Linked DNA regions of Homo sapiens: region 2 is reported to be linked to region 1. Evidence: microRNA targets listed by miRTarBase, many of them from high-throughput screens and not tested one by one. Region 1 holds a microRNA gene; the other region holds the end of a gene's coding sequence.

What was found. The annotated mature microRNA hsa-miR-8078 reads GGUCUAGGCCCGGUGAGAGACUC and lies in region 1 at 1,089-1,111, opposite strand. An mRNA with a match to its seed (bases 2 to 7 or 8) in the 3' UTR can be bound and repressed. Matches are read on the target gene's strand: a 7mer-m8 pairs with bases 2 to 8, a 7mer-A1 pairs with bases 2 to 7 and ends in A, and an 8mer does both.
Region 2: miRTarBase lists PLEKHA8 as a target of hsa-miR-8078. Seed matches in the 3' UTR shown: 7mer-A1 at 949-955.

The regions. Positions count from the first base shown.
Region 1 is chr18:111,178-114,356 of GRCh38, forward strand. It overlaps MIR8078 (microRNA 8078), which reads right to left and starts at 1,162; the gene lies at 1,079-1,162. It also overlaps the pseudogene ROCK1P1. RefSeq lists a silencer at 594-843.
Region 2 is chr7:30,078,249-30,081,427 of GRCh38, forward strand. It overlaps PLEKHA8 (pleckstrin homology domain containing A8), which reads left to right. Exons shown (of 14, transcript NM_001197026.2): 14 at 342-3,179. The coding sequence ends at 539. Among named protein-coding and RNA genes, the nearest start is that of PLEKHA8, 51 kb to the left of the region's middle. RefSeq lists an enhancer at 2,572-3,098.

The sequences.
Region 1 (3,179 bases):
CTGGGCTTTGCTTACAGGGGGCTTTGTGATATATATTTCCACTGATCAAACAGGTGATGTAACCCTTGTCAAGGTTCTGCTTAAAGCGGCTTTGTGAGATATCTCTGCACTGATCAGCCCAGGGAGGGAACACTTGTCTACACTCTGCCTACAGGAGGCTTTATGACTTATCCCTGCACTGATCACTAGGTGATGTAACAATTGTCTAGGCTCTGTCTACACGGGAATTTTCACATACCTCTACACTGATCACCTAAGTGATGTAACCCTTGTCTAGGTTCAGCCTACTAGGGAGATCTGACACACATCTGCACTGATCACCGAGGTGATGTAAATCATTTCCAGGCTTTTTCTACAGGGGACATTGTGACATATCTCTGCACTGATCACCCAAATGGTGCAAATCTTCTCTAGGATCCACAGGGAGGGGGCATTGTGACATATCTCTGAACTGATCATCCAGGAGATGCAACTCTACTCCAGGCTTTGCCTAGACAGCGTCGGAAGGTGGGGGGAGAGACTCAGCCAGAATTTCACGGACAAACAAGGGCACAGAGAGGCCAGCGAGCTCCCTTGCACGTCAGCCGGGGTGCGCACTGCGCGCAGGTCTAGCCAGGAGGCCGGCAAAGACAGCCAGAGGTGTGCCTTCGACCGCCAGGCGCTCCGTGCTGGCAGCCGGGAGGCCGCAGGGGCCCGGGCGGGCGGGCGACGGTGGCGCGCAGGCGCAGAGGAGGCGAGCCGCCGGAGGGTGTCAGGCCTGGACGCTGCGCGGGCCCGGCGTTTCGCGGGACGGGGGTCTCCACCCAGCGCAGGGGACGACGCGTTCTCCGGGGGTGGGGGGTGGGGGTGGGGAGGGGCCCAGGGGACGACGCGTTTTCCGGGGGCGGGGGGTGGGGGTGGGGAGGGGGCGGTCAGGCGGCGGGGTGGGGCGGTGGAGAGGCGGGAGAGCTCTGTCCCGGCTGCTCCCACAGCCCAGGCGGCTGCCCGCAAACCCGCGCGTGCGCAGTAGGCGGCCCACCTGCTGGTACCTGGGCCGGCTCTGGGATCCCCGGGATGCCCAGGAAAGAATGGCAGTTCTCCGCTGTGTGGAGTCTCTCACCGGGCCTAGACCTAGAAGGCAGGAATCCCAGGCCGGTCAGCCCGGTGGAGGGGGCGGGGCGGAGACACGCCCCTCCGTAGCCAGCCAGGTGTTCCCCGCGAAAGAGAGGCCACCGCCCTGCCCCGAACCACCCGACCCCGTCCCAACCCCGCGTCCTAAAGCTCCTCCAGCAGAGCCCGGTATTCTTCCTCGCTGAGGGGTGCTTCCAGCGAGGCGGCCTCTTCCGAGGCCTCCAGCTCCCCCGGGGCCTCCGTTTCTGGGAAAGGGTTAGACACAGAGTAAGTTGCCTTTGATTGAATTTTAAAGGGGTTGAGAGCTAACTTTTGATAATTATTTTTAGACTTAAAATTTATTTTATATTTTGTGTTACTTCAGCACTGTTACCTACTTTTCTGTTTTTCTTAAGCATAAATGTTGACATTATATTAAATCTTCAGCAAAATGTGAGAAGGAAAAATGTATATACTTATTTCATGTATTTGGAAGACAACTTTTTTAGTTCAAGTGTTTAGTAGTTTGAGTTCAGAGAGCATTTCAAAAAGTATAGTCAGCTGTGTATCAGTGGGTTCCATATCCACAACTGTGGATAGAAAATATTTGAAAGAGGGCCGGGTGCGGTGACTCACACCTGTAACCCCAGCACTTTGGGAGGTCGAAGCAGGTGGATCACCTGAGGTCAGGAATTCAAGACCAGCCTGGCCAACATGGTGAAACCCCGTCTCTACTAAAAATCCAAAAATTAGCTGGGCGTGGTGGCAGGCGCCTGTAGTCCCAGCTACTCAGAAGGCTGAGGCAGGAGAATCACTTGAACCTGGGAGGCAGAGGTTGCAGTGAGCCGAGATTGCGCCACTGCACTCCGGCCTGGGCCACAAGAGCGAAACTCTGTCTCAAAAAAAAAAAAAATATATATATATATATATAAAATATTATATATATATATTTTATAACTATTAATAGAAATTTCTTTAAAAAATACAGTATAACAACTGTTTACATCGCATTTATACTGTATTATGTCTTATGAGTAATACAGACATGATTTTAAAGCATACAGGAGGATGTGCCTAGGTTATATGCAAATACCACACCATTTTATATAAGAGCCTTGAGCATACTTGGACTTTGATATTTTTGGAGTTCCTGGAATCAATTCCCTGTGGATATAAAAGAACAACTGTGTAGGATTCTTTGGTCATTATTAAGGGGAAATATAAATATATCTGTTCTTTTGTAATGATAGGTCAAAGAGGCCTATAATATGGTATTTTTTCTTATATTCATTCTAAAATCTTTTCTTAAGTATTGCTGCTTATATTATCATAGATTATGTAGTATGTATAAAGATGAGTAAATTCCATCATTAAGGACCTTACCGACTAGTAGGAGAAAAGGCAGAACATATTCAACAAAATATATATTCAAAGTCAAGTCTGGTAACTGCTTTTTAAAAGAAATATATATATAAAATAAAGTATTATCATCCCTTTGAAATTAAGTATTTGTGGAGCTGGTTATAGTTAGAATGTAAAAAGAATTAAGCAAGTTCTAGAGAATACTCTTACTTTATTTTCTATTTTTTTAATAAACAGCTTTAGTTGTCAAAATTTAAATTATCAGCTTAAGTGAAATAATACATAAACACTAGTATGAAAGATACTATCTTTCAACTAAGTTAAATACTTTTTAGATTGATGAGAGATTTCTTTCCTCTCTTTATTAAGGTATAATTTCCCACAATAAAGTTCATAGATCTTAAGTGTTCTCTTCAGTAACTTTTTACAGTTGTAAACACTCATATAATCACTCAAGACAAGATTTTAAAAAATCGTATTTCTTTAGAAAACTCACTTGTGGCTGGGCACAGTGGTTATGCCTCTAATCCCAGCACTTTGGGAGACCAAGGTGGGCGGTTGGCCTGAGTTCAATTTGAGACCAGCCTGGGCAACATAGCGAGACCCTGTCTCTGAAAAAAGAATTTTTTTTTTTTTTAAATTTATGAAGAGAGCTCACTTGGGCCAGTTGTGGTGGCTCACACCTGTAATCCCAGCACTTTGGAAGGCTGAGGTGGGAGGATCACGAG
Region 2 (3,179 bases), not on the chromosome of region 1:
ATTCTGAGGATTTGAGGGGAATAGTCTGGATCACACTGTGGATCAGAAGGGAGCTTTTCTCAGACTCTCTCTCTCAGCATTCCCTGATGTGATAGCATTATTTATCCTTAAGGTGGCCCAAGTACATGCTTGTTTCTTCTAGCCTTAAAGTTATTTGAATTGGCCCTTGAAACATAATTTTAGAGAAGCCACAAATTAGAAGGGTAGTCATATTTCTTTACTCTTGCTCTTCTCAGCTGTTTGTATGTGTGAAAGTATGTGTGTGTGCATGTGCACATGCATAAAAATAAGAGTGTGAGAGACAGACTTGATGCAGATTCTCATGGGTTATTCTTTTGCAGTTAGCTTTAAGGGCAGCTCCATCCTATGAAGATTTTGTGGCCGCGTTAACCGTAAAGGAAGGTGACCACCAGAAAGAAGCTTTCAGTATTGGGATGCAGAGGGACCTCAGCCTTTACCTCCCTGCCATGGAGAAGCAGCTGGCCATACTGGACACTTTATATGAGGTCCACGGGCTGGAATCTGATGAGGTGGTATGATGGCTGCTGGGCAGCACCTCCTAACTTCAGGGAATAAGTGCTAAAGTGTTTTGTTGCCCTACTTAATTTCCAGCAACAGCCTCAACCCTCTCCAACCCCTTCACCTGGGGGGATGGACAGGAGGTGGCAAAACCCAGTGCTTTTATAATTTTTAAAATGCATATGTGTTTTGTTTAAAGATCAAGGTGCTATATATTTCAGTTCAGCAGGCCTACTGGAAACCAAATGATAAGCTGCTGTAGACTTGAACAGCAAGTTATAAGAGCAGATTTAACAAACAAATTTGCTGTTATTGTGTATTGTATTGTTTTTATATTTTAGTCTAATGGGCCACCCAAACCCAAGCTGAAAATCAGCAAATTCCATATTAAGTACCATAATTCATAGCCAGTGTTTCAGCCAACTTAGACTAGACATTTGGAGGTAGTATAAGCTGCTTTGTTGAAGCTGTGTAGAGTTTGCTGTTCCTAGATGTTCTTCAGTGGACCCTCTTCACTGCAACTCTGTCAGTGATAAGGGCCTGTGTAGTAAAGATGTTCAGGGCATTCACATGACCATGCAATTGTGGGAGGCGAAGAAGACGTGGACAGGAGTCCCATCCTTGCTGACAGGCATGAAACCGTTGCTCTGAGAAGATTAATGGTGTGCCCTAGCCCCAAGTTGGAGGGGAGAATATGAGAGAGGTGGGACAGGTCATTTGAGATGACACCTCCCAACTGCCTACCATTTACCAGCATGTTCCCCATGCATTATCTCAATTGGACATCACAAGTAATGATACCCAGAGGGATTATTACTCCACTTCAAAAGCAAGGTTTAGAAGTTGAGGGATCTGTTCACAGTCACATAGTTTTTAAGCAGAGGAGCCAGATAATTTCCAAGTGTGACCTGGACTGCCTCTGCATCAAAGTCATATGGAGTGCTTGTTCAAACAGCAGATTCCCAGGCCTTATTTTGGCCTAAAGAACCAGAGTCTAGGTGGTGGGACATAGGAATCTGCATTTCAGTAAACTTTACACGTGATTCTTCTGCACACAGTATTGAAGAGCAACTAGATTAAATTCTAGTTTACAAAATTACCAGTTTTCTTCAAGAACTAAATGATATGTCCTTTTTTTTTTTTTCAAAGAGGATAAGGCTGCTATTTAAATAAAATAGCTAAATGGAGAGTGAGAAGTGGAGCAGGTTCATTCAGCAGCATTCTTAATTGAGCCAGCATTGACACCCAGCCAGCAGGCCTTTGCATTGCATTCGGGGACCATGACTCTGAATCTGCTTACCAATCAATCTCGGTTTAATCACCAAAAGTGCAGAGCAGGCAAAATGCAGCTGTTTATCAATCTCAAAAGCTTTGGGACAGTGTCATAGTTGAAAGATGAGACTTAAGAAAACAGTTTCTTAAACTTCTTAAAACTTAAGAAACATTGTTTCATAAAACAATATTGAGTGGGCATTCTTCTGCACAGTGTGATGCTCCAACCCTGGCCCTAGTCTCAGTAGACCATGCTGCCTCGAGTGTGCATCGGAGAGAAGCCATGGGTACCTTCCCCATTAGAGGCTACTTCCTTCTAGTAACAGGAAGGGAAGTTCCAGCATGAGGTAGTTATCCAGGGTAGAAGGTCCTTTGAGGGGCTTGGTTGAATTGAGAGCATCATCTCTAGATGATGCTGTTCCTGCTGCAGATCTCTAGGATGGAGAGAATTCTCTCTTTAGTCAGAGAAGTTTATGTAGGGAGGGGTATTGGTTTTGCCTTTGTGTGTCTTTAAACAAATGAACATTTATTTAGCTCAGATTAATTAGGTATTTTGCCCACATAAAGACTTCTGGAAAATACTTAAACTTGAAAAATCAACATCACATGTTTTAAAGCTAGGGAGAAAGAAGGGGGGTATTAAAATGATGTTGATTATTTTGTATTTTGCCAAGGTGTGTGTGTGTTATTTCCCTCCCACTCTCATGAGCAGTGAGTATAGATCTCCTTCTCTGATTAGTATGAATATGATGGCAGGACTCGGGGATAGTCCCTGCCCTTGACATAGCCCCCTAAAACGGAAAAAGAAAAAGCCAGTTTTTGCTTGTACTTTGAATGAAGATGTTTTAGGCATTGTACCATTTAGCGGGGATGATACCAGGTGGTTGTTAGAATTGTGCAGTGTGATCATTCTAAACAGCTGCTGGTGCTCCCTGTCACCTCAGGTGAACTCTGTGGTCTCTTGGAGAGGTAGCACTCTGAAAATACCTCAGGTTTGCCACCGCAACTCTGAATACACACAAAAGGAAAGCTGCTCAGCATGGCCATTTTGCATTTGTATAGGTAGTGACTAGATGTACACAACTTAATTTGCTGGGAATGAGGGGCTTAATATTATCTGAGATCATTGAGAACCCAGATCAGACAGAATAGCTTGAATAAGTTACATTTTCCAATTACCCTTTTTCCACATCTGTAGAAAGAGGGTAATATTTTTTAATAGGTATTTTCCCCACTGGAGCATATTACGTTTGCCTAAGATGTATAAAAGTTTGTTTAAGATGTGTAAAAGTTTGCTTAAGGAACTGAGGATCCTTAAATAAAAATATTAGAAATTAGAAATTGAACCTAATACTAAACAGTAAATTCAGCTTAACCTGAACCTTGGC